Linked DNA regions of Homo sapiens. The gene in region 7 interacts genetically with the main gene of each other region. Each region holds a gene or a part of one and is shown on either strand. Other genes may lie near its edges.

Evidence for each region.
Region 1: changes in UTP4 (region 7) and ANAPC13 together harm fitness more than expected from each alone (negative genetic interaction), as found in Homo sapiens cells (one large-scale study listed by BioGRID).
Region 2: changes in UTP4 (region 7) and XRN2 together harm fitness more than expected from each alone (negative genetic interaction), as found in Homo sapiens cells (one large-scale study listed by BioGRID).
Region 3: changes in UTP4 (region 7) and RPL35 together harm fitness less than expected from each alone (positive genetic interaction), as found in Homo sapiens cells (one large-scale study listed by BioGRID).
Region 4: changes in UTP4 (region 7) and EXOSC2 together harm fitness more than expected from each alone (negative genetic interaction), as found in Homo sapiens cells (one large-scale study listed by BioGRID).
Region 5: changes in UTP4 (region 7) and MFAP1 together harm fitness more than expected from each alone (negative genetic interaction), as found in Homo sapiens cells (one large-scale study listed by BioGRID).
Region 6: changes in UTP4 (region 7) and EGFR together harm fitness more than expected from each alone (negative genetic interaction), as found in Homo sapiens cells (one large-scale study listed by BioGRID).

What each region holds. Positions count from the first base shown.
Region 1 is NC_000003.12:134,477,206-134,480,095, forward strand, and holds the end of ANAPC13 (anaphase-promoting complex subunit 13), read right to left. Parts: intron 1,511-2,890; coding exon 1,385-1,510; 3' UTR 501-1,384; downstream 1-500. UniProt on the Homo sapiens protein: Component of the anaphase promoting complex/cyclosome (APC/C), a cell cycle-regulated E3 ubiquitin ligase that controls progression through mitosis and the G1 phase of the cell cycle.
Region 2 is NC_000020.11:21,309,831-21,313,330, reverse strand, and holds part of XRN2 (5'-3' exoribonuclease 2), read right to left. Parts: intron 1-3,500. UniProt on the Homo sapiens protein: Possesses 5'->3' exoribonuclease activity. May promote the termination of transcription by RNA polymerase II.
Region 3 is NC_000009.12:124,859,158-124,863,122, forward strand, and holds the start of RPL35 (large ribosomal subunit protein uL29), read right to left. Parts: upstream 2,801-3,965; 5' UTR 2,756-2,800; coding exon 2,753-2,755; intron 2,399-2,752; coding exon 2,262-2,398; intron 1,108-2,261; coding exon 1,026-1,107; intron 1-1,025.
Region 4 is NC_000009.12:130,692,382-130,696,579, reverse strand, and holds the start of EXOSC2 (exosome complex component RRP4), read right to left. Parts: upstream 2,801-4,198; 5' UTR 2,789-2,800; coding exon 2,667-2,788; intron 1,089-2,666; coding exon 987-1,088; exon of another isoform or gene 974-986; intron 1-973. UniProt on the Homo sapiens protein: Non-catalytic component of the RNA exosome complex which has 3'->5' exoribonuclease activity and participates in a multitude of cellular RNA processing and degradation events.
Region 5 is NC_000015.10:43,807,691-43,811,190, forward strand, and holds part of MFAP1 (microfibrillar-associated protein 1), read right to left. Parts: intron 2,225-3,500; coding exon 2,065-2,224; intron 1-2,064. UniProt on the Homo sapiens protein: Involved in pre-mRNA splicing as a component of the spliceosome.
Region 6 is NC_000007.14:55,204,017-55,207,516, reverse strand, and holds part of EGFR (epidermal growth factor receptor isoform a precursor), read right to left. Parts: intron 2,262-3,500; coding exon 1,900-2,261; 3' UTR 1-1,899. UniProt on the Homo sapiens protein: Receptor tyrosine kinase binding ligands of the EGF family and activating several signaling cascades to convert extracellular cues into appropriate cellular responses.
Region 7 is NC_000016.10:69,163,649-69,166,584, reverse strand, and holds part of UTP4 (U3 small nucleolar RNA-associated protein 4 homolog), read right to left. Parts: intron 1,245-2,936; coding exon 1,059-1,244; intron 1-1,058. UniProt on the Homo sapiens protein: Ribosome biogenesis factor. Involved in nucleolar processing of pre-18S ribosomal RNA. Part of the small subunit (SSU) processome, first precursor of the small eukaryotic ribosomal subunit.

The DNA.
Region 1 (2,890 bases), on a different chromosome or scaffold from region 7:
TATCATATTCTGGTTCAGCAGAAATCAAGAATAGCTTTCATATTTTACTGGTCTACTAATATTCCAGGGAAAGGCTAGGCAGGATTCACATGAACATTTGTCAAGTTCTTAGATGTTAGTGTCTCAGAGATTACATACCACAAGTAAGCTGTAAAATCCTCATTTAACAAGAATGTGAAAGAACTGTGGCGTTCTAGGTATTTTAATTTTTTGAAAAGCTTTTTCTCTTGTATAAGTTTTTTTAATATTGTAAGTCTCTTTTCTATTAGGTTGTCTTTCTTTGCTTACTGAAGGGACTGGTGCCTTGGGGTCTTTATTCTGAAGATAAAAGATTTCTAGGCAGAACTACTGATGCAAAGAGAAGAAATCAGCCTGGATGTATCTGGATTATAGGATAGCTGCTAAAATCATGTTTGTGATTGAAAACCTAAAATAAGCTAATTTGTTTTTTCATGTACCTCTTCCTCCTAAAAGCTAAGTAAACAAAAAGACCCAGCATAAAAAGGATGAGAAGAGATTTTAGTTATTCAGTGTTTTCAGAGTTTCAACAAGGGATACAGATACAAGCAGCTTCTTACAGAGTTTACAATCTGGGGAGAGAACATGAAAGACACTGTTTAACAGGCAAATAATTCCAGGAATAAATATACATGAATGTGTTTTTCAAAATACAGGTTCTTATACAAATGTATAACTAAATACTGATTCCATAGTGGGGTGGTTGTAACTGAAAGGGCTTTGAGAAAAGGCTTTGAATAAAACTAGTCATCCACCTAGCCAAAGATCCTTTCCAGCAGCACAAAAGGAATTTGTAAGGAGAACAGAGATTAACTGTCAGATATCTTTCTAATCTGTAAATTTATCCAAAGTTTGAAAATACCATGAAGAATCTTAGGAATGCCAGTAACCAGGGAATGGGATATTTGCATATCACAACATCTACAGGCTAAATACACTCCGAATGCTTCTCAATGTGGGGAAGTATGAGAAGTTAATAATTCTCCTAGTGTCTGGCTTCCTTTTTCTTTGCCTTTCCCTCTCATACGTTCAATCACCTGTGTTACAGGACACACATAAGTAGTTGGAAGGTGTTAAACTTTGACAGCAAAGCAAAATCAGAGGTAGAGGCAAATGTTTAACCAATCATGTTCAAATATAAGCTACTCAATGAAGAGTTTTAGGTTTAAAGAGCGAAATATTCACCATTACTGAGAAATCTCAGTTTCTCATTCAATTTCGCATTGCACTTTGCTACCACAAACTAAATGGGTGTACATTTTTGAGTGCTGATTTATTACTCAAAGGTTTGAATTTGGAGACTGAAACAAACCATGCTTTATCTGTGTACTTTGAGAAAATCCATCCACAAGAAAGGAGCCAAGCGTCAGTTTCCAATGGGGGGAACATTCTCATGGAGGTACTGTAAGGCTAAGTCTGTCCACTTCATTTCTTGTTCTTTGACAGATTCTGTGGTGCCACCATTGTCTTGTTCAGGTTCAGGAAGCTCATTCTGAAAAGGTACAATAGAAATTCAGAACAGTAATATATTCTGCATCTTCTTGGAACTCAAGAACACTTAGAATTAAAGCTTGTGAGTTCCTAGGAACAGGCAACATAATTGATATGTGTATTCTAAAAAAGCTAAAATCATACACGTGAGGAAACTATCAGAAGTATCATTCAAACATGGCCCGGGCCTTCTTCAGTAGGGAATGATGGGCATTTTGACTCTGACATTTGTGAAGGAGGCACTGTGGCAGAAAGGTTAAGGGCAGAGGCTTTTGGAAGCCAACTAGGATCCAAGACCACAACTCTCCCATTTGCTGGGTTACTTGGGCAAGGTATGCAAACCCTTGGGGCCTTTGTTTCTTCCTTGGCAAATGGGAGAACAAAAGAGCCATCACCTCACAGGACTACTGTAAGGATTAGGTGAGGTAATTCAGATCAAGTGCTGAGCACTCTGTGGGGTATCCAGTGCTCAAGGAATATTTGCTATTATTATTAGCGGCTAGGAACACTGAGATGAGTGAATCCTAAATCTTCTTTAGCGGGAGCGTGCTTTAAAAGAATACTAGTTTGCTGGCATATTCCTTAGACACAAGAAATGTATCCAAAAAATTATCTTGGACCCAACATGTCTTTTTTTTTTGAGATGGAGTTTTGCTTTTGTTGCCCAGGTTAGAGAGCAATGGCGTGATCTCGGCTCACCACAACCTCTGCCTCCCGGGTTCAAGCGATTCTCCCGCCTCAGCCTCCCGAGTAGCTGGGATTACAGGCATGCACCACCATGCCCGGCTAATTTTGTATTTTTTTATTTTTTTTTAGTAGAGATGGGGTTTCTCTATGTTGGTCAGGCTGGTCTCGAACTCCCAACCTCAGGTGATCCACCCGCCTCAGCCTCCCAAAGTGCTGGGATTACAGGCGCGAGCCACCGCGCCTGGCCCAACATGTCTATATTATAATAAAAATGGAGGTAGGGCAGGAAACACTGAAAATGTAATTAATAGATAAGACCTCCCTCTAGTGGTGGAGCAGAGCAACAAAAAACACAACAAATGACCAATTCACACCCTACCAGCAATTTTCTTAAAATGGTAAGTCATGGGCCACACTTACTGTAGGATCTGGGATCATTTACTTGTATTTTAAGTTTAAATGTATTACTACTGAAACTCTGCTTTGTACCAGAGTTCACAGATACCAATATATTTCTTTTCAATTATCTGTGTTTTGTTTTATGGTTAGCAAACTGTTATGCGATATCCAGACTTAAAATTTTCCACTGGATTCTAATTTGTAGTATGTGAATATGTTTTCCCCTCTAAAATTATGCTCAATATATATTAAATGATATTTACTTATCTATATTTGAATCACATACATCTTGTTC
Region 2 (3,500 bases), on a different chromosome or scaffold from region 7:
AAATGAGGACACGCAGCCTTCTGCTTTCAGCCCTTGCACAGAGATGACCAGAGGGGGAAACTGTAGGGAGCAGCACAGTGTAGCGTAGTGTGTTAACTTACACCAAATTTGGCCTGAGGATGGCTCCTTACTGATTCTTCACTTGAAGAACTGCAATATTACTTACATAAAGTCCACTAAGGAAAAGCCTAACTTAGGAGCATACTTCTGTAACAAAAAGCAGAGTCTCCGCCAATCGCAGCAGTCGAGCTTCAGTCAATCACAGGTTGCCAACTTATCTGGCCATGTTTAAATAAGCCAAAAGATTAAGCTGTTTCTGTACCTCACTTCTGTTTTCAAGAGCTCCCCAAACCTCTTCTGGTTCTGAGGGCCACTCAACTGGCAAACTGTTCATTGCTCAATTGAACTGTGTTATTTAATTTATCTAGGGCCCAGGCATGGTGGCTCACGCCTCTAATCCCAGCACTTTGGGAGGCTGAGGCAGGCGGATCGCCTGAGGTCAGGAGTTCAAGACCAGCTTAGCCAACGTGGTGAAACCTCTACTAAAAATACAAAAATTAGCCAGGCGTCATGGTGCACACTGGTTGTCCCAGTTATTTGGGAGGCTGAGGAAGAATGGCTTGAACCCAGGAGGCAGAGGTTGCAGTGAGCAGAGATTGCACCACTGCACTCCAGCCTGGGCAACAGAGCAAGACTCTGTCTTCAAAAAAAAAAAAAAAAAAAAAAAATCTTGGGGTTTGGTTTTAACAAGAAGCTCTGGCTCTCTAGAGTTTAGGCATTTAAGTCATTTTCCGATGGTCAGAAAGCTGATAAATGGAGGACTGCATGAGCCAAGCAGTTAAAGTATATGAAGTGAAGAAGCTGATGACTGAATCAGTAAAGAGTTCTTAATAAGTGAGCAAAGGGAATAAAATGAAATCATAAAAACACAACCTAAGGCCGGGCACGGTGGCTCACACCTGTAATTCCAGGAAGTCAGGAGATAGAGACCATCCTGGCTAACACGGTGAAACCCTGTCTCTACTAAAAAAAAATAAATAAATACAAAAACTTAGCTGGGCATGGTGGCAGGCGCCTGTAGTCCCAGCTACTCGGGAGGCTGAGGCAGGAGAATGGCGTGAGCCTGGGAGGCAGAGCTTGCAGTGAGCTGAGATCGCGCCACTGCACTCCAGCCTGGGCAACACAGTGAAACTCCTCTCAAAAAGACAAAAAAAAACACAACCTAAAAGAAGGCATAAGACTTAAGAAACTGAAACAATGAACAGATGAGACAGAAAACAAATAGTAAGATGACAGATTTAAATCTAACCATATCAATAATCTTTTTTTGTCTTTTGAGACAGAGGCTCGCTCTGTCGCCCAGGCTGGAGTGCAGTGGAACAATCTCAGCTCACTACAATCTCAGTATCCCAGGATCAAGTGATTTTGTGCCTCAGCCTCCTGAGTAGCTGGGTTTATAGGTGTTGTACCACTATGCCCAGCTAATTTTTTTTTGTTACTTTTTTAGTAGAGACGAGGTTTCACCATGTTGTCCAGGCTGCTCTCGAACTCCTGGCCTCAAATGATCCATCTTCCTTGGCCTCCCAAAGTGCTGGGATTGCAGGCGTGAGCCAACATGCCTGGCCATCAATAATCATTTTAAATATAAATGTTCTAAATGGCCCAATTACAAAGCAGACTAGAAAAACAGTTTGGTGGTTCCTCAAAATGCTAAACACAGAATTACATGATCCAATGATTCCACTCACAGGTACATACTCAAAAGAACTGAAAGCAGGGACTAAAAAAGATACTTGTACACCAATGTGCATAGCAGTGTTATTCATAATAGACTAAAGGTAGAACCAGCCAAAGTGTCCAGAGTGTGACATATACTCCCATATACAATGGGAGTATCATTCAGCTTTAAAAAGGAATGAAATTCTGAGACATGCAACAACATGGACAAACCTTGAAAACACTATGTTAAGAGAAATAAGCCAGACACAAAAGGAAAAATATTATGATTTCATTTACATAAGGTAACTAGAATAGGCAAATTTATAAAGATAGAAAGTGGGGAGGGGGACAAGGAGTTACTGTTTAACAGGTAGCGTTTCTGTTTGGGATGATAAAATTGTTCTGGAAATAGACATTGGTGACAGTTGCACAACAATTTGAACATACTTGGTTCCATTGAATTGTACACTTTAAAACAGTCAAAATGGTAATTTTATGTATGTTTTATCCCAATAAAAAGAGGGGGCAGAGATTCTCAAACTGTATAAAAAAGCCAGACCCGGACAGGCGCAGTGGCTCACGCCTGTAATCCCAGCACTCTGGGAGGCAGAGGCGGGCAGATCACGAGGTCAGGAGATCAAGACCATCCTGGCTAACACAGTGAATGAAACCCCATCTCTACTAAAAAAAAACAAAAAAATTTGCCGGGCGTGGTGGCGGGCGCCTGTAGTCCCAGCTACTCGGAAGGCTGAGACAGGAGAATGGCATGAAACCGGGTGGCGGAGCTTGCAGTGAGCCGAGATCGCGCCACTACACTCCAGCCTGGGCGACACAGCAAGACTCCATCTCAAAAAAAATAAAAAATAAAAAATAAAAATAAAAAAAAGCCAGACCCAATTGTTATGTTACCTACAAAAACGTCCACTTTAAACATAAAGATGCAAACAGGCTAAAATAAAAGAATAGAAAAAAACACACCATGCTGACACTAGTCAGAATAACTGGCTGTATTAATGACAAATAAAATAGATTTCTGAGCAAATATTAACCAAGAATAATGAAGGTCATTTCATAATAAGTGTATTATCCACCAAAAAACTAGAACAATGTTAAGCATTTATGCACCTAATAAAAGAGCTTCAAAATACACAACCAAAAACCAATAGAACTGAAAGGAGAAACAGAAAAATCCAAAAGTTATAGTCAAAATTTCACAGCAGCAGAAAATGTATCCTTTTCAAATACACATAAAACATTTATAGAGACCATATTCTGAACCAGTCTGATAAACTTCAACAGACCTCAAATTAAATATGATCTCTGATAAGGGAATTAAATTAAAAATCACGAACAGGAAAAAATACCTGGAAAATCTCCCATGTGTGTGAAAATTAAGTCACACTCTTAAATAACCAGCGGGCCAAAGGGAGTTTTAGAACATATTTTTAAGTGGATGAAAATGAAAATACAACATGTTAATATTTGTGGCACACTGTTTAAACAATATCTAGAAGGCAATTTATGGCACTCAAGATCTATATCAGAGAGGAAGAAATGTCTCAAAACAATGACCTCAGCTTCTACCTTAATAAACAAGGAAGAGAAAAAACAAGTTAAACCCAAAGTAAGCATAACAAATACATATAAGAGCAGAATCAAAGAAATAGAAAACAGAAAAACAATAAAGAAAATCAATGAAACCAAAAGCTAGTTATCTGAGAACAGTGTAGCCAGACTGATAATGGGACAAAACAAAGAAAGTAGAATTACAAGTATCAGGA
Region 3 (3,965 bases), on a different chromosome or scaffold from region 7:
ACATAGCCACACTATGGCCCTTCTCATTTTTTTGAGATGAGGCCTCACTATGTTGCCCAGGCTACACTTTAACTCCTGGGCTCAAGCCATCCTCCTGCCTCGGCCTCCCAGTAGCTGGGGTTATAGGCCTGTGGCACTTCATCAGCCATGGCTGCTTTTCCCTTGTGTCAAATCTTCAAGTTATTCAAACACAATTTGGGTAGTGATGTGGAACCATTTTGCAGATGAAATTAAAGACCCTCATCAGGTAACTTTAGGGGAGATTATCCTGGGTAATCCCAGAAGGCCCGATCCAATCAGCTGTAAGTCTTAAGCACAGGGCTGAGGCTCCCTCCAAGTACCCACTGGGAACAGCAGCTTCAACCTGAGCCCTGAGTCCCAGCCAGCCCCCACAATCACCTATGCCCATTCTTCAGAATACATTGGATGCATGTGCACACACCGTCTCCCCCTAGTTTTCTCTGCTTGAACCCCAATAAGATGAATGTTAAGGACAAGACCAGAAAATGGTTATCAAAATTCAAGACTAAGAGGGGGCCAGACACCTGTGCACACCTCCCAGAACACTAAAGCCGACCCTCCCCAAGGTAAGGTTTGGAACCAGGGCCCATCATGCCATTGACTGTGGGTGTCTAGGCCTCAGGGCCCTCATCTGAAAAATGAGCATGGCAGGTGCCTGGCAGGGACTGACACCCAGTGCCAGTAAGAGGCAGTGAAAACCTTCAACAGCCAGTCCTATCACTGCCCAAGCCACTCAACTGGGAAGGCTGGTTTCAAAAACTGAGTCTCCAGCCAGGACACCCCAAGCCCCAATGAATTCTTGACATCTGCAGCCTGAGGAAGTGGTCTGCAGAGCCACGTGCCAGTGCAAGACACTGGTAGAAGAGTGAGCCCAGCAACAAATTGGGAAGGCTAACCACTCTCAGCCCACGCACCAAGAAAAACCTCTTTACCATGTCCCCGGCCAGGGACGGCTAGCACTTGGCTTCCTGCAGCCAACCCTCCCTATGTCCAGGCAGACTCACCTTGTAGAATTTCCTGAGGTTTTCTTTCTGAGTCTGGTTAATAACTGTGAGAACACGGGCAATGGATTTCCGGACGACTCGGCTACAAAACAGAGATGTCAGTGAAGATAGGGAAGACACATAGCACTACCCAAGACTCAGGACTCACACATAGGGCAGCAATAGCTGCAGCCTCCCCCATCAACCCATCCATATTCACTCAGGAGGAAGGCGTTCTGGGAGTGAGGTCTGAGGAGGGAAGAGAGGGGCATGGGAGAGACAGCAGAGGCTTTATGAGGAAGTGCAGGCTGGATAAATGAGGCAGATCAGAAAAAGACCTTCAATCCCAGAACACGAATTTATCCTGAGGGCTAAGACCCAACCAATGCCAATTTCAATGAGCTGATGGGAAGGAATCATGCCACAAACCAGGCAATCAGGCTAGCTTAGGGAACTGCAGGAGAGAGAAACAAGACATTTGCAAAGTGGAGTCACTACAAGCCAGGAGACTGAAGCAAACAACGAGCCAGGGAGAAGTTATTTGTAGTCATGTCAGGATGAGGGAGTCACCTAGTAGACAGCTGGTCAACATGGTTTTTGAGGATTCAGTGTGCAACTGTGCTTGTCCAATCCTCCCACCCCTGCCTCTACTAAGGTTGTTTGGGGGCAAAGAGGGCAACCACCATTTTTTTTTTTTGGAGACAGGGTCTCACCTGTCAACCAGACTGAAGAGCAGTGGCCCCATCATAGCCTCCCAACTCCTGGGCTCAAGTGATCCTCCTGCCTCAGCCTCCAGAGTAGCTGGGACTACAGGCCTGTACCACCACACCCATCTAATTTTTTTTTGAGAAGTGGACTTTGTACCCAGGTTGATGAACTCCAAACCCATGTTCCTTTCACAAGTCTCCCGCACTCTTAGCCATGTAAAATAACTTACGCTGCCACTCCAGGGTGCAAGCCACCCACCTGCCAAGGGGGTTAAAAACTCAAGTGTTGGTGGGAAGCGGAAGGAAGGGGTCCGGGTAGGCTTTGAAGGCAGCATTAAGATGGGTCTCCGGGGATGCATTCCAGGCACAAGGACCGCAAGGTCAAGGCAGGTAAGAGGCTAAGCACACAACGGGTCTCCCATGCGCGCCAGGATGCACGGAGTGGGCATCTAAGCGGCCAGCTCCTTAAGCCAACTTTGAAATCCTCCGACGATCCCGATGCACACGTGCTCCCCACCCACGAGGGCTGTGATCCGGCCGCCTCACTTACATCTTAGAGAGCTTGGAGGCCGCACCGCCTGTCACTTTGGCGACGCGCAGCTGGGACAGCTCCACCTTCAGGTCGTCCAGCTGTTTCAGCAGCTCCTCCTTCTTCTTCCCGCGAAGATCTCGAGCCTTGATCTTGGCCTGCGCGCAAGAGAGAGTGTGCCTCAGCCAGGCCGCGGGGCCATATCCCCTTCACCTGCGTGGCCAGCCCCCAAAGGCGCGCGACTCGCCATCGACTACGAGTGCGCCGGAGCCCCAACCAGGGCTCAGGACAGTCTCCCTCGCCGGCCGTGCCTTGGGCAGAGTAACCCAGGCCCGGGCCGCGCGCCTCTCCCGGCGCCAAGCGAAGAGGCGGGTTGTGGTGGCGCCAGACCATTCTGCGCGGCGCCCCACAGGCCTAGGTGGCAGATAGAATCCGCGGGCTCAGCCCGCACCGCCTTCCCCAACCCCCGCGCCTCACAGCGCTCGGATGGCGCCCGATTCCGCAGCTCTCACCATTGCTGCACAAGCCGCCAACGCCGCCGCCCGCTCCGAGGGAAAGAGGAAGTAGGCGGGGCTGACCTCCGCAACTACTGCCGGGTGGCGGCGGGCGCGGCCAATGGCGCCGCAGCGGGGGAGCCCCGGCTCCGCCTCATCTCCCCCGCCCCCGAGGAACGCCGTGGTACTGCCCGCCCCGCCTGGTAGGGCCGGAGCCCCGCCTTGTAGTGCTCGCCTCATTCACGGCACCCCTGATAGCGAGGTCGGCGTCACGGTGTAGGCGCGCAGTTGGGGAAACCGAGGCCCAACGTGGGCGGCAGCTACCAGAGATGGCACACGGAGGACTCAAATTCGTCCATTCAGTCATTCGTTCATTCATTCCTTCGGGAAACCTTGCAGATCTCCCAATCTGGGCAACTCTGAGCTGGGCGCCAGTAGTCTGGGGGTGCTGACGGGAGGAGGGGCCAGAGTTTTCAAAGACGATTAACCGAGGCTCACGTCGCGGAGGAATTTAAAGCGCGAGATGGACGGGAGGGGCGGGCTCAGGCAGTTATAATCCAACTCCATAAAGGTTCTGGGGAGGCAGTATATGGAACTGCAAAGAGCATTTACACCTTTTTTTTTTTTTTTTTTTTTGAGACAGAGCTTCATTCTGTCGCCCAGGGTGCCAGGCTGGAGTGCAGTGTCGCGATCTCGGCTTACTGCAACCTCCGCCTCCCGGGTTCAGCGATTCTCCTGCCCCAGCCTCCCGAGTAGCTGAGTAGCTGGGATTACAGGCATGCACCACCACGCCTGGCTAATTTTTTGTATTTTTAGTAGAGACGGGGTTTCGCCATGTTGCCCAGGCTGATCTTGAACTCCTCAGCTCAGGTGATCCCCTCGCCTCGGCCTCCCAAAGTGCTGGGATTACAGGCGTGAGCCACCACGCCTGGCCCCAGCCTTTATTTATTTTTTTTATTTTTTAATTTTTTTTTTCAGACAGGGTCTCGCTCTGTCACCCTGGCTGGAAGGCATGGCGCGCTCTCCGCCCACCAAAACCTCCGCTTCCCGGGTTCAAGCAGCCCTCCCACCTCAGTCTCCCGAGTAGCTGAAACTACAGGCACAAGCCACCAGGCCTGGCTAATTTGTTTATTTTTTGTAGAGCTGTTGCCCAGGGTGGTCTCCTGGGCTCAAGCAATCCGCCCTCCTCGGCCTCCCAGAGTGCCTAGGATTACAGGGGTTAGCCACCTCG
Region 4 (4,198 bases), on a different chromosome or scaffold from region 7:
CCAATCACTCCTCCACCTTCCACTGCTCCCACCTTAGTTGAAGCCACCATCACTTCAGATCATGAGTATGGTCCCTAATCCACCTCCCTAAGCTTGCCCTATCCCCCTTCAATCTCCCATCAGCAGCCAGAGTGAGCTTAAGTCCAGATCAAGTCCCTCCTCTGCTCCACCCCTTCCAGTGCTTCCCAGATTACACAAAGTAGAAGCCAAAATGCTTACTCTGGCTACAAGGCAGGCCCACGCCCGCCCACCTCAGCTCTCTGCTTACATCTGCCCCTTCTCTCCCCCTCACTCACTCTGTTCCAACCCCACTGGCTTGCTTTCTGGGGCTAACCTTCATTGAATGCTTCTAGGTATCAGGCTCTGTGCTAAATACTTTACAGGCACCATCTCACTGAATTCTAAAGAAAATCCTAGGCCAGGCACAGTGGCTCACGCCTGTAATCCCAGCACTTTGGGAGGCCAAGTGGGGGGAAATCATCAGAGGTCAGCAGTTCGAGACCAGCCTGGCCAACATGGTGAAACCCTGTCTCTACTAAAAATCGAAAAAAATTAGCCAGGCGTGGTGGAGGGCGCCTGTAATCCCAGCTACTCGGGAGGCTGAAGAAGGAGAATTGTTTGAACCCGGGAGGCGAAGGTTGTAGTGAGCCGAGATCACGCCACTGCACTCCAGCCTCGGCAACAGAGTAAGACTCCATCTCGGAAAAAAAAAAAAAAAAAAAAAGAGAAAATCCTATGAAGTAGGCCATGCTATTATACTCACTTTGCAGAGGAGGTAACCAAGGCTTGGAGTGGTGACATAACATGGGGAAACCTCTGAAGCCTGCACTGATCTGCACCACCCCACCTACAGTCATGGTCAAAACCTCAGACTTACAGCATGACAGGGCAGGCAGGGGTGGGGTGGGGGATAAGGAGGGGGCAGGAAAAGCCTGGTTGTACAACCTGATGCTGCAAGAAAGGGAATACACACCTTTTGTTCTCACCTGGTTTTCAAAGCTTTCACACAGATCAACTTGTTTACTCTCTCCACAGAGCCAGCAACAGATGCAATGAGCTTCTCTTCTCCCATATACGTTCCATGGCCCCTGATGCAAGGCGAAGATACAAAGAAAGGATACGAGGGTAACTCGAAATGACTTCTCTCCCTTCAAGAACAACGTGTTCCTCAAAGCTAACAGGCTCCCCCTGCAAAGCGTGGCTTCTGTGCTGGCTGCTCCCTCTGCCTTCAGTGCTCCTTCTCCAGACAGCTACTTGGACATCACTCCTCTCACTCAGGTCTGCTCAGGTGTCACTTTCTGCAGCAGGCCTACCTTGACTGTGCCATTGAAAACACAGCCCACCCTGTTGCCACCATTCCCCCCACATACCATTGACCCTGCTCCACTTTTTTCCCTATTGCATTATTGCCTAACATTCTGAATAACTTATTCATTGCGCTTATTATCTATCTCTCCCTGTTAGAACTCCACCAGGACAGAGATTTTTCACTCTGCCATAATAACCCAACTGCACAAAATATATGTTGAAAGCATTAATGAAAGAATGAATCTTAAGATTTCCTAGGGGCCAGGCATGGTGGCTCATGCCTGTAATCCCAGCACTTTGGGAGGCCGAGGCGGGCAGATCACACTTGAGGTCAGGGGATCGAGACCAGCCTGGCCAACACAGTGAAACCCTGTCTCTACTAAAAAAAAAAAAAACCAAAAATTAGCTAGGCATGGTGGCGTGCACCTGTAATCCCAGCTACTCAGGAGGCTGAGGCAGGAGAATCACTTGAACCCAGGAGGCAGAGGTTGCAGTGAGCCGAGATCGCACGACTGATCTAAGACAGACTCCGTCTCAAAAAAGAAAAAAAAATTTCCTGGTATCCACTAACCTTAAACTAACAGGTTAAAGGGCAATGCTATGAATGCTGTGCCCCTTGTACATATACAAGTAAAAAAATAATAATAATAAAGGTTGAAACACTAGTGTTATCTATGATGATATAATGGCTGGTTTTACTTCTTTTCTTACATAATTGTCTCATTTAATCCTCATTACCGTATCATACTGTTATTATCACTATCTTACAGATGAGGAAACTGACCGTGGAGAGGCAATGCCGCTAATAAGATGTGATGGTAGCAGGACCGGAACCCCAACTGTCTGACTCAAGAGCCTTCCCTCTTAACCACAATACACTGCACTACACCCCTTAGATTCAAAATGTGTATAAATGGGTGCATGCAGCACAATGTAACTGTTTGCCCTAAGATCGAACAATTACGGATTCTAAACTGAAGAGGAGGCAGCCAAGAACGCCCACCGTCCCCTCAGAGAGCTGAAAACTGGAAAAGAGCCTGCACCTAACCCTCCCCAGCTTTCCAGGTCTCCCACAAGGAAGGATCAAAGATTTGGACTTCAGGCAGAAGACCCAAAAGTCACAGCCACCGGAGGTCAGGAGTGGAGGGTTTCAGGGAGCTGAGACAAATGCAGACGGGGACACACAAGATGCAGGGAGCAAGAAGCACGAGGCTCGGAAGCGAGGTGTGTAGGATGCTCAGACGAAGTGCCCTGGGTCCCGCGGGGAGTTACACACACAGGGATACGAGGCCTGGACCACGTGCAGAGAGCCCTGAAGCCGCTCTCTGAAGCCTCGACTCCCCCAAGTCCCCACGTACCGCATGAATCCTGTGTCCGTAGTGATTGTATCCCCCGGCACCACTAGATGTTTCTTAGTGTCGCGGCCCAGTCTCTCGCTAAGAGGCTTGCGAGCCACTGGAAGCCTCATCTCCATCGCCATCTTGGCGCCAATGAGTTGCGCAGGCGCAGCTCAGTCGGGAGCTGCGATATCCGACTCCACAACTCCAGGCCGCGTTCGGAGGGGCGGGGAAGGGCGGGGACTCAGAGCAGCTGCCAATGAGAACTCACGGCCTAGAGGCCATGTTTACAATTGGCAACAATAAGGCGAACCCGAAGGGAAGGGAGCCGAGCTGCCATGTCTACTATTGGCAAGGAAGCACCCGTGGAATAATAAAATCTCACGTTGTGTGGCGTGTGACTTTTTACCAAAACTGTCTTGTACTCATCATCCCATTTATTGTTTACCAGGGTTAGAGATAATTGAGAAACGGACCTCTGAGTTTCTGTCCAATTCTAAGCTGCTGAAATCCGATATTTTGTAAGAGAGAGCTCAGGAGGATGGAGAGATGGGATCTACAGAAAACACTATTTGAACAGAAAGAAGAGCCCCTTTCCACACGGTTCCCAGTAGCGCCAGGATTCTACATTGCGGCCGCCCCGTGGGTGCTGGCTCAACATCATCATCTATAACCCCAAACCGGGCTCCAGATACTTCTCACTTGGTTCTGTCCTTTCATAAGGACTCCTTTGAACAAGCTAATTTACTCCAATATTTCTTTTGGAAACAAGTTAAAAATCGTCTAAGAAAACAGGTCAAACCTTGCAAGCCAGGTATATTTGGTAGGGAAGGGAAGAGCACACACAATGCGAAGATCTTGGCTTGCATTTAGTTACACAGCGAGTTGAGCGCTCTCTGTGTGCCAGGCGCTGTTCTAAGGACTCAGCGGGGAACAGACGGATGTCTCTGTGGGTTTTTCTGCGGCTCCGTTTTAATAGGAGGGTACCCCTCGCCCCTTCTCCCCGTCCCCCACTACCCTCTCCCTCTCCTTGCCCTGCATTCACAAGAAACTAATTGGGGATGGTAACTCCCCATGCACAGGGACTCTAAAGACGATTAAATGAAATCATTGGCATCAGCTGTGGTCAGTAAAGCCGGTAAACCAAGTCCGCCTCCTGAAGAAAGATCCATCGAGCCAATTGTTTTATAAATCTCCAAAGCGACAGCATTTCTTCCACTTAAGCAAGTCTCACGACCACACTTAAGAAAGCCAGCCCTGCCAGGCAGTCGATGACATGAATGCTAGTGCCCCGAGGCCCTGGGTAAGCGGGCTGCCAGACCCTCGCCCTCTGCCGTGCCTGGAGGAAGGCACTAGAGCCCAGCCCCTCGGTCCAGTCCTGCCGCGGCCATAAGAGGGCGATGGTGTCCTCTGAGCTCGCGTAGCCCGGCAGCCGGGGAGCCAGGCCCAGCGAGCGGCCCTAGGCGGAGCGAGAGTGTAGGCCTGACACCATCCAAGTTCTTCCCGGGAGGGAGAGACGTCGCCTTTACCCCGCGCATTCTCACAGCGTTCAC
Region 5 (3,500 bases), on a different chromosome or scaffold from region 7:
TCAACCCTTTCAATCTTCTACCAAATATAACATCTCTCTCGTCAGAACCCCTACAGTACTTTACTTTTACTTATGTTATAGTGATTATGTATTCTCGCTAACAGTGCTAAACAGTGACCTTTGCATAGTATATGCACTAAAGCTTACTTACTCAATGAAATAAACAACATTAGTAAGGCTGGATGCAGTTGCTCTTGCCTGTAATCCCAGCACTTTGGGAGGCCAAGGTGGAAGGAGAGTTTGAGCCCAGGAGTTTGAGACCAGCCTGGGCTACATAGCAAAACCCATCTCTACAAAATAGAAATTAGGTGTGGTGGCACACACCTGTAGTCCCAATTACTCAGGAGGCTGAGGCAGGAGGACTGCTTGAGCCCAGGAGAATGAGGCAGCAGTGAGCCATGACTGCACCACTGCACTCTAGCCTGAGTGATAATATTACAATGCTGTGATACATATTTATAAACACATATGCTGAAGGAATTAAAAATAGCACTATCTTGTTTAAGAAAGACTTTTTAAAAACAATTTATTTTGAGACAAAGTCTTGGTCAGCCACCCAGGCTGCAGTGCAGTGGCACGATCACGGCTGACTGCAGCCTCAACCTCTCGGGCTGAAGCAATCCTTCCACCTCAGCCCCTTGATAGGTGACACTACAGGCACGGACCACCACGCCTAATTTTTGTATTTTTTGTAGAGATGGGGTTTTGCCATGTTGCCCGGGCTGAACTCCTGGGCTCAACTGATCTGCTGGCCTTGCCTCCCAAAATGTTAAGATTACAGGCATTAGCCAATGTACCTGGCCCACCAAAGGACTTTCACATACACTTTTCTTATGTATCTTAACTAGCAATGAACTGCTTCTCTAAGAAACTTGATTATTAAAGCTGCGAACTGCTTAAGCAAACAAACTTTATGACCGAAGCAGTACAAGAAGTAGTTCATAATCTCCACTGAATAGTAAGCTACATCTGCTGGAAAACTACCTAAGTAAACACTTCCTGCTAATCAGATAGACCTGAAACTGATTTTGGAGGGTGGCAGGGAAGCCGCCACTGAAGTTTTAACAGCATCTGCAGTGAAAGGCAGGAATTTAGTTGCAGTGGGGATATTTAGAATTTGCCACACGGCACTTGAAAAAGCTAGTCTAGTTTTTGGTGCAAACTGCTTTAACATTAGGAAATAAACCATACAGGGTTAACAGATTGCTATTTTGATCTTAGTCTTTATATGAAAAACAAAGATGACGGCATTCCATCTAATGGTTAGATAATAAACCATTTTTTTTGGTTAGTTACTCTTGGGTACTGTCAGTTCAGAATGAAGTGAACTAACTTTCTGCCACCCAAAAGTGAATTAATGTAAAGCTATTTGCAGAGTTTGGTTTTCACATAACCAAAACTTCTCATTCAGCTATGAAAGAATGACAACTATGTCATGTGGAGGACCTAATTAGTCCACTATCTGTACAGATCACTTCTCTATTTCATTTCCTCAATTTATCTAAGGCTGGGGATGATGGCTCATGCCTGTATTCCTAATACTTTGGGAGGCTGAGGTGGGAGGATTGCTTGAGGCCAGAAGGTCAACACCAGCCTGGGCAACATAGTGAAACCTGGTCTTTACGAAAAATTAAAAAAAAAATAACCAAAAAAAAAAAAAAAGCCAGGCATGGTTGTTGCATGCCTGTAGTCCCAGCTACTCTGGAGGCTGAAGCAGGTGTAAAGCGCAGGACGTCAAGGTTGCAGTGAACTATAATCGCACCACCGTACCCCAGCCTGGGTGACAGCGAGACTCTGTCTCTTAAAAAAAAAAAAAAAGTCTATTACATCATTTCCTATTTTTGAGAGTTGGGGCCAAAAGAGAGAACAGTTGATGCTACTTCTGTCATCCAATTGCTGATGCTTTTCTCTGAGTTTATATTGTTCAGAAGGAAAAAGCAAATGAGAAAGCTGACCACTGGCAAGTGGAAATTACATTCCAGAATATTCTTGAAGAGAAAAATAATTCAAAGTTTCTGAGTTATTCCTACTGCCCAATTTTCTGACTCTCTTTTCACTTCTTACCATGAAGAAGGCACCCCGGTGATAATACTTCTGTAAGAACTTGTATTTGCCCTTAACAGCTTTGTTGGTAATGACTTTGCCGTTTGCCCGAAGTTCAGCTCTCCTCTCTTCCTCAGTCAGGTTTCGCATGCGTTCAATTTCTGCTTTCTCCTTCTCAAGCCTGTCCAGGGAGCAAAACAATTTATTGGTACTGTTACAGCTTCAGAAAGACCAAATTATCTGAAAATAACAGTCCCATGTCATTTCAAGTATTAGTCACCTTCTTTAATTCTAGTCATTGCCTATTAGGAATCAAGATAAGGAGCTCAATAAACAAATGGGTGAGTTAGTCTTCATTATGTTTGCTAGACTAGGTATTGCCAACTTTCAAAAGTTGATTCTAGCCCTTCTGACGTTCAGACATACTATTACTGCTGGGTTTTCCAACATTACAAATTCTCTTTCCCTAAAAGGTCTTCTTAGCTTTAAAAAAAAAAAAAAATCAGTGAATTTAAAATAAGTGTCTGAGGCTTTGCTGGTATTCCTTTATGTAAGTGTATCATAATCATATAGGTGCTTGCATGTCATAAACCAAAGATTACCATCATTAATTAGATTGCAGTAACTTTTTTTTTTTTTTTTCTTTTTGGTGAGATGGAGTCTTGCTCTGTCGCCCAGGCTGGAGTGCAGTGGTGTGATCTTGGCTCACTGCAAGCTCCGCCTCCTGGGTTCATGCCATTCTCCTGCCTCAGCCTCCCGATTAGCTGGGACTACAGGTGCCCGCCACCATGCCCAGCTAATCTTTTTGAATTTTTAGTAGAGACGGGGTTTCACCGTGTTAGCCAGGATGGTCTCAATCTCCTGACCTCGTGATCCGCCCGCCTTGGCCTTCCAAAGTGTTGGGATTATAGGCGTGAGCCACTGCGCCCAGCCAGATTGCAGTAACTTTTTAGCCAGTGTTGGGGAGAGGGAGTGATATCCCTTGTCTCCAAATAAAATGCATACATACACACAATTTTGTGTACAATTTTATATTTTTTTGAGATGGAATCTTGCTCTGTTGCCCAGGCTGGAGTGCAGTGGCATGATCTTGGCTCACTGCAACCTCTGCCTCCCAGGTTCAAGCTATTCTCCTGCTTCAGCCTCCTGAGTAGCTGGGATTACAGGTGTGTGCCACCATGCCCGACTAATTTTTGTATTTTTAGTACAGACAGGGTTTCACCATGTTGGACAGGCGGGTGTCAAACTCCTGACCTTGTGAGCCGCCCACCTCGGCCTCCCAAATTGTTGGGATTACAGGCGTGAGCCACCACGCCCGGCCTTGTGTACAATTTTAAAGGGCACTTAGACTCCTACTCCTACAGGTCCAGGATAAAAATCTTAGAAACTACAGGCTGAGGGCCAGGCGTGGTGGCTCATGCCTGTAATCCCAGCACTTTGGGAGGCCGAGGTGGGTG
Region 6 (3,500 bases), on a different chromosome or scaffold from region 7:
CCTGGCTGATGGGTCCTGTCTGGCATTTGTCACGTTGTTTTAAGGTTAGCATCTATGAGTCCATTTCCTTTGCTAAATTGTGAATTTCTTAGAATCAGGGACTATGTTTTATTTATCTTTGTATCTTTCATACCCATACCAGGCTAGTATAGATGCTTAGGGGTATTTGAGAGCATAATAGAGTGGAAATGAATATAGTTTTATTTTCATTGAGACAAAAATCAAATACTTTCTTAACAATGCTGTAGGGGCTCTGACTGATCTGGGAGTCAAAAATTACTTTAAAAGCAAAAGGAACATTTTGTATGTGTGTGTGACTGAACATAACTGTAGGCTGAAAATATTTTCTGAACCATTTCTTCCTTGATAAATTGGATGGGGTGGATATTGACTAGGAGAGTTTAAAACACTGTTTACAAAGGACTGCTGTTAACCAGTCAGGTTACAGGGCACACACAGATTAGGAAAAAAGGTGGGCTCCTAACTAGCTGAATCTTCCAATCTTCCAATTGTAGAGAAATTATTTTAGGAAGGAACTTTTTTCCTTCTAAAACATCTGCAAATGTTGTGAAAGCATTATCAATTTCAAACCCTAGTTTCATATTTACTACCTGAATTCCACACTACTCATAATGCTACTGTCATTCGCACCTGTAAAATGCCCTGTTGTGGCCAGAGCTGTAAGTGCTTGAATAGATGACTCAAGGCAGAGACACTTTTTGTGTGACAAAGCGTAAGGAGGGGGTTTGGGGGCAGCTGACCTGGAGGGAACATATACTCTTTGAGTAAAAAGCTTTTGAAGTGAAGTAAAAGGAGAAAACTATCTTCCATAAGTAACACAAACTAATTTTGGGGGGTTGGGGTGATGGCTAAAGGAGATTTCAGAGCAGCTTCATTTTTGTAGTCTTCTGATCTATGCCCCAAAGGACCTGATGCATTTCATCTGAGCCTCAAATTAGGAGATACGTTTTTGCGAGAACAAAAGCGGTGCTATCCTTAGGTATTCCACATTCTCAGCTGTGGGCTATTGGTCCAAATGCTGATGAATCCAATGTGGGCTGGAATCCGAGTTATTATTTGATGTGTCATCCTCTCTTGCTGATTTCATGACAGCAAGACAGGGGCAGCATACTGAGTTTCAAAACAATGGAATGGAAGACAAACAAGTCAGTCTAACGCTCATGACTGGAAACCACTGGTCCATCAGTGGGGAGTAAGTACCGTGGGGACATTTTTACAAAAGTAAGTCTAAGGAAGAATTCCATCCCCTCCGTTTCTTCTTTGCCCAGGAAGGGACAGAGTGGCTTATCCTACTGTACCTGCCATGACTTGATACAGTACCGATCCGGCCTGCTGGGGCCATGAAGGCCTTCTTGGATCTTTAGTGTTTTGCAGTGGAAGCCTTGAAGCAGAACCACTGGAATCAAGCATCCTCTGGAAGACTTGTGGCTTGTGCTCCTTGCTCACAGTTGGGCCTGGATGAACTCAGGGTAGCAAGTGCTACCAGCAAGCTTCTTCCTTGTTGGAAGAGCCCATTGAAGTAAAAATCAATAGCGACAATGAAAAACTCCAAGATCCCCAATCAATAAAAATCCTCACATATACTTTTTTTTTTTTTCAAATATACCTCTTTGAAAGATAAATTTCTGCTCAAAGGGACAATATTCTTGCTGGATGCGTTTCTGTAAATGCTTCACAGTTTGAAGACAAAGGAATGCAACTTCCCAAAATGTGCCCGAGGTGGAAGTACTTCCTGGCTAGTCGGTGTAAACGTTGCAAAACCAGTCTGTGGGTCTAAGAGCTAATGCGGGCATGGCTGTTGGGATGGAGGACCTGCTGTGGCTTGGTCCTGGGTATCGAAAGAGTCTGGATTTTTAGGGCTCATACTATCCTCCGTGGTCATGCTCCAATAAATTCACTGCTTTGTGGCGCGACCCTTAGGTATTCTGCATTTTCAGCTGTGGAGCCCTTAAAGATGCCATTTGGCTTGGCTTCCTTGGGAAAGAAGTCCTGCTGGTAGTCAGGGTTGTCCAGGCTAATTTGGTGGCTGCCTTTCTGGGCCCAGTGGGCAGGGCTGTCGAATGTGCTGTTGACACAGGTGGGCTGGACAGTGTTGAGATACTCGGGGTTGCCCACTGCAGTGCTGTGGGGGTCCTGGTAGTGTGGGTCTCTGCTGGGCGCGGGGTTCAGAGGCTGATTGTGATAGACAGGATTCTGCACAGAGCCAGCGGGCCTTTTGGGAACGGACTGGTTTATGTATTCTGAAAGTGGAAAGAAATCAGAGGTGAAGTAATCAGCAAAGCACCATCCCATGCAGGATCCCTGGGTTCTGAACCCTGTGAATGTCCTCAACAAGGAGACTTATGACAGGGAGCAGGAGCCTCGGGAGGGCCCTCTTGCTGTTGCTGCAAAAGAAAGTGGGTTCTTTCCTGTCCTTCTCAAAGTAATGGACATATGTGTCTTTTGTAAATTTAAAGTTCTCAGAGGATAAACTGCCTTGAGGAGAGTGTGTGTATGTGTGTGTGTATGTGTATGCATGTATACATATATGTGTGATGTGTATGTGGTATGTGTGTCTGGTGTGTGTATATGTGTGTGTATGTGCACCGTGTGTGTGGTGTATGTGTGTGTGGTGTATATTTGTATGTGTGTGTGGTGTGTGCATGTGGGTGTGTGTGGTGTGTGTGTACGTGTGTGTATATGTGGTGTGTGTATACGTGTGTATGTATGGTGTGTGTGGTGTGTATGTGTCTATTGTGTATGTATGTGTGGTATGAGTTGTGTGTGTGTGGTGTGGGTGTGTATGTGGTGTGTCTATGTGTGTCTGTGGTGTGTGTGGTGTGTGTACGTGTGTGTGGTGTGTGTATGTGTATGTATGTGTGGTGTGTGTCTGTGGTGTGTGTGTGGTGTGTGTACGTGTGTGTATGTGTGGTGTGTGTGTGGTGTGTATGTGTGTGGTGTGTATGTGTGTGTGTATATATGCGTATGTGTGGGGTGTATATGTTTGTGTGTGTGTGGGGTTTTTGTGGTGTGTGTGTGGTGTGTGTATTTGTGTGTGTTGTGTGTATATGTGGTGTGTGTGTACATGTGTACATATGGTGTGTGGTGTGTATATGTCTATATGTTTATGCATGTGTGGTGTCTGTGTGGTGTTGGTGTGTATGTGTGCATACATATGTGTATGTGGTGTGTATGTGTGTGTGTGGCGTGTGTACATGTGTGGTGTGTGGATGTGTATGTATGTGTGGTGTGTGTGTGGTGTGTATGTGTGTGTGGTGTGTGTGTACGTTTGTGTATATGTGGTGTGTGTGTACATGTGTATGGTGTGTGTCGTGTGTGTCTGTGTGTATGTGTGTGTGTAGTTGGTGTGTGTAGTTGGTGTGTAAAGAGGTATATCATCTGCCTTAACTTGCATTTTTCTAATAGCTTATAATATTGATAATCTGTTTATATTATATTAGATAGCCAATAAACTATATATTAGATATTACACTAACATA
Region 7 (2,936 bases):
CTGATGTCACTGACACCTCGAGGTGGCCTCTGGCCAAAGAAATGATATTTTGTCTCTGACTTCCTGGGAAATAGCTATGCCTACTGTAAGGAAGCGATGAACTTAAAGCCAATGCTTTGGAAAAAATGATCTGGGCTCAATTACAAAGAGGCAAGAGAGTGGGAGGGGCCCTTCCTGTATCACTCATCTTGCAGAAGGCACTTGTCAGCCAGCTCTGCTTCCCACACCCAGAGGTCGCAGGGCCCACGAGATGATTCCAGTGACACATCCCCGTGCACACCTCCTTTAGAGCCATCTGCTGCTTTCCCCCATGTTCCTTCCACCCCCACCTTCACAAACACACCAAAACACCGTGTGATGGTTGTAATCTAAGCCCAAAGTGCAGGACAGGCATGGCCACAATGCTCCTAGGAAACAAAGCACCTGCCCAGAAAAGCCATACAAATTCAGGGTGAATCAAAACAGCAGCTGGCAAAGAGGACAGAATCTAAAACTGAAGAAAATGCTCGTATCCCATGTAAATCACAGCCATGAAGAATTTTCCTAGCTGGGTTTTTCGAAGATGTTAAGACCAGTTCCTCAAGCCTGCAGACAGCGTTTTAGTAGCTTTAGCGAAGGGGCACAGAGGTCAAAACCTCAGCCTGTACCTCCTTTAATGAAACCAGGTTATTCAGATACCCCAGAGTTCAAAGTTGAAAGCAAGTTAGCCAAATCAATGATACTTCCGGATGAGGGTCACCTTCCGAATACTGGCCTAATCACTTTTCTGTGTAAGATTTATGTGCTTACTCGCAAAGTAGACAAATAGTCAAATCAGCAAAAGCCAGTATACAAAGGCCAGCCCCTTCCCCGAGAGCCTCCCGAAGAACTGTGGGAACACAAACCAGGGAATCTGTAAAACAAAAGCCCCTCTCCTCCAAGAAATGTACTAGCTACCTGTATTCTGATTTACTAGCTACCTTTATTCTGAGTCTCTGTCCTCTTACCTTATTGTACTTGTTGCTTTTAGAACTTTAAGATTCAGAAGAAGATTTGGGAGGTAGCAGTGAAGAACTCACCAATGACTTGTCAATGATGCAGAACATGTAGGCATCATGGAGAAGGATGTGCATCGGTCTCTTGGGATGAAAACTGATGTGTGTGATAGGAGTATCCCTTTGGAGCCAAAGGTGGTGAAAGCCCTGCTTCTGGACAGTCCGGCTCCAATCTGTATACTGTTTGTCTGGGATGCTGTACTCAAATACCTGAGGGAGGACATGACATAGAGAAATGCAGGCTGGTACTCAGAAAGACCAGAAGGGCATTCTCATCCCTAACCAGAAAGTATCTATACAAAGCTTCAACTGTATTATATTCATTCTATGCTCTCCCAACACTTTTTTTTTTTTTTGAGATGGAGTCTCACTCTGCCACACAGGCTGGAGTGTAGTGGCGTGATCTCCGCTCACTGCAAGCTCCGCCTCCCCGGTTCAAGCCGTTCTCCTGCCTCAGCCTCCCAAATAGCTGGGACTATAGGCGCCCACGAGTACGCCCGGCTAATTTTTTGTATTTTTAGTAGAGATGGGGTTTCACTGTGTTAGCCAGGATGGTCTTGATCTCCTGACCTCGTGATCTGCCCGCCTCAGCCTCCCAAAGTGCTGGGATTACAGGCGTGAGCCACCGCGCCCTGCCCATCTTTTCAGAGCTATTTTATGCACATAATACATAGCGTTCTGTATCTTGCTTTTGTTGCTCAGTGTTATATCACGGAGACTGACCCACATTAATACACATATATATCGGTCATGCCCATTCTGAAACACAGAATAGTCCACTCATTTTGTCCATGTATCATGATTTACTTATCCACTCTGCTTAATGGACATTAGCTTGTTTCATATCTTTGTCTACTACAAACAAAGCTGTCTCTGTATAAATGTCTTTTTGCACAGCTAGAAGCATATATATCTATATACAGATATATATATACATATATATATATATATATATATATATATAAAGAATGATTAGAACTGAAATTTCTAAGTCAAAGACCATGTGGACTTTAAAATTTTTAAGGTATTGCCAACATGTCCTCCAAAAGGGTTAGGATAATTTACACAATGTGTGAGAGTACTGTTTCCCTATACCTTCAGAACACTGTATATTATCAAGTCTTTGATCTTTGCTAATCTAACAGATATAAAAAACTTCCCATCAGTTTTACTTTCAGAAGCACTTAAGGGACTAAGTGCCAGTAAAAGGTGTCATGGGGGAAATTATCATTATGTGTGACAAAGGCAAAGATGTGTGGCTTCACTACTCTTTCAGTCTTTGGTCAAGGACTCAAATCTATAAAACTGAGAGATTTCACTTTTTGGACAGTGTGTGTGTGCATGTGTGAGTGTAAAAACTGACCATCAGCCGGGCGCGGTGGCTCAAGCCTGTAATCCCAGCACTTTGGGAGGCCGAGGCGGGCGGATCACAAGGTCAGGAGATCGAGACCATCCTGGCTAACATGGTGAAACTCCATCTCTACTAAAAATACAAAAAATTAGCCGGGCATGGTGGCGGGCGCCTGTAGTCCAGCTACTCGGGAGGCTGAGGCAGGAGGATGACATGAACCCGGAAGGCGGAGCTTGCAGTGATCGGAGATCGCACCACTGCACTCCAGCCTGGGCGACAGAGCGAGACTCTGTCTCAAAAAAAAAAAAAAAAAAACAAACTGACCATCAAAGCAGTAAGCATCATTTGCCTAGCACTCTACTTAAATGTGCTTCCTGGATTACATTTAATCTTCCCAACAGCTCAGTGAGGTAGATATTAACATCTCCAATTTTACAGATGAATTATTGATAACTTCCTAATATAATTATTGATAACTTCCTAATATATTCCGCAGCCCAGGTTTTTTTTTTTTTAAAGATCTCCTTATAATCACAATCTCCTTACAAATT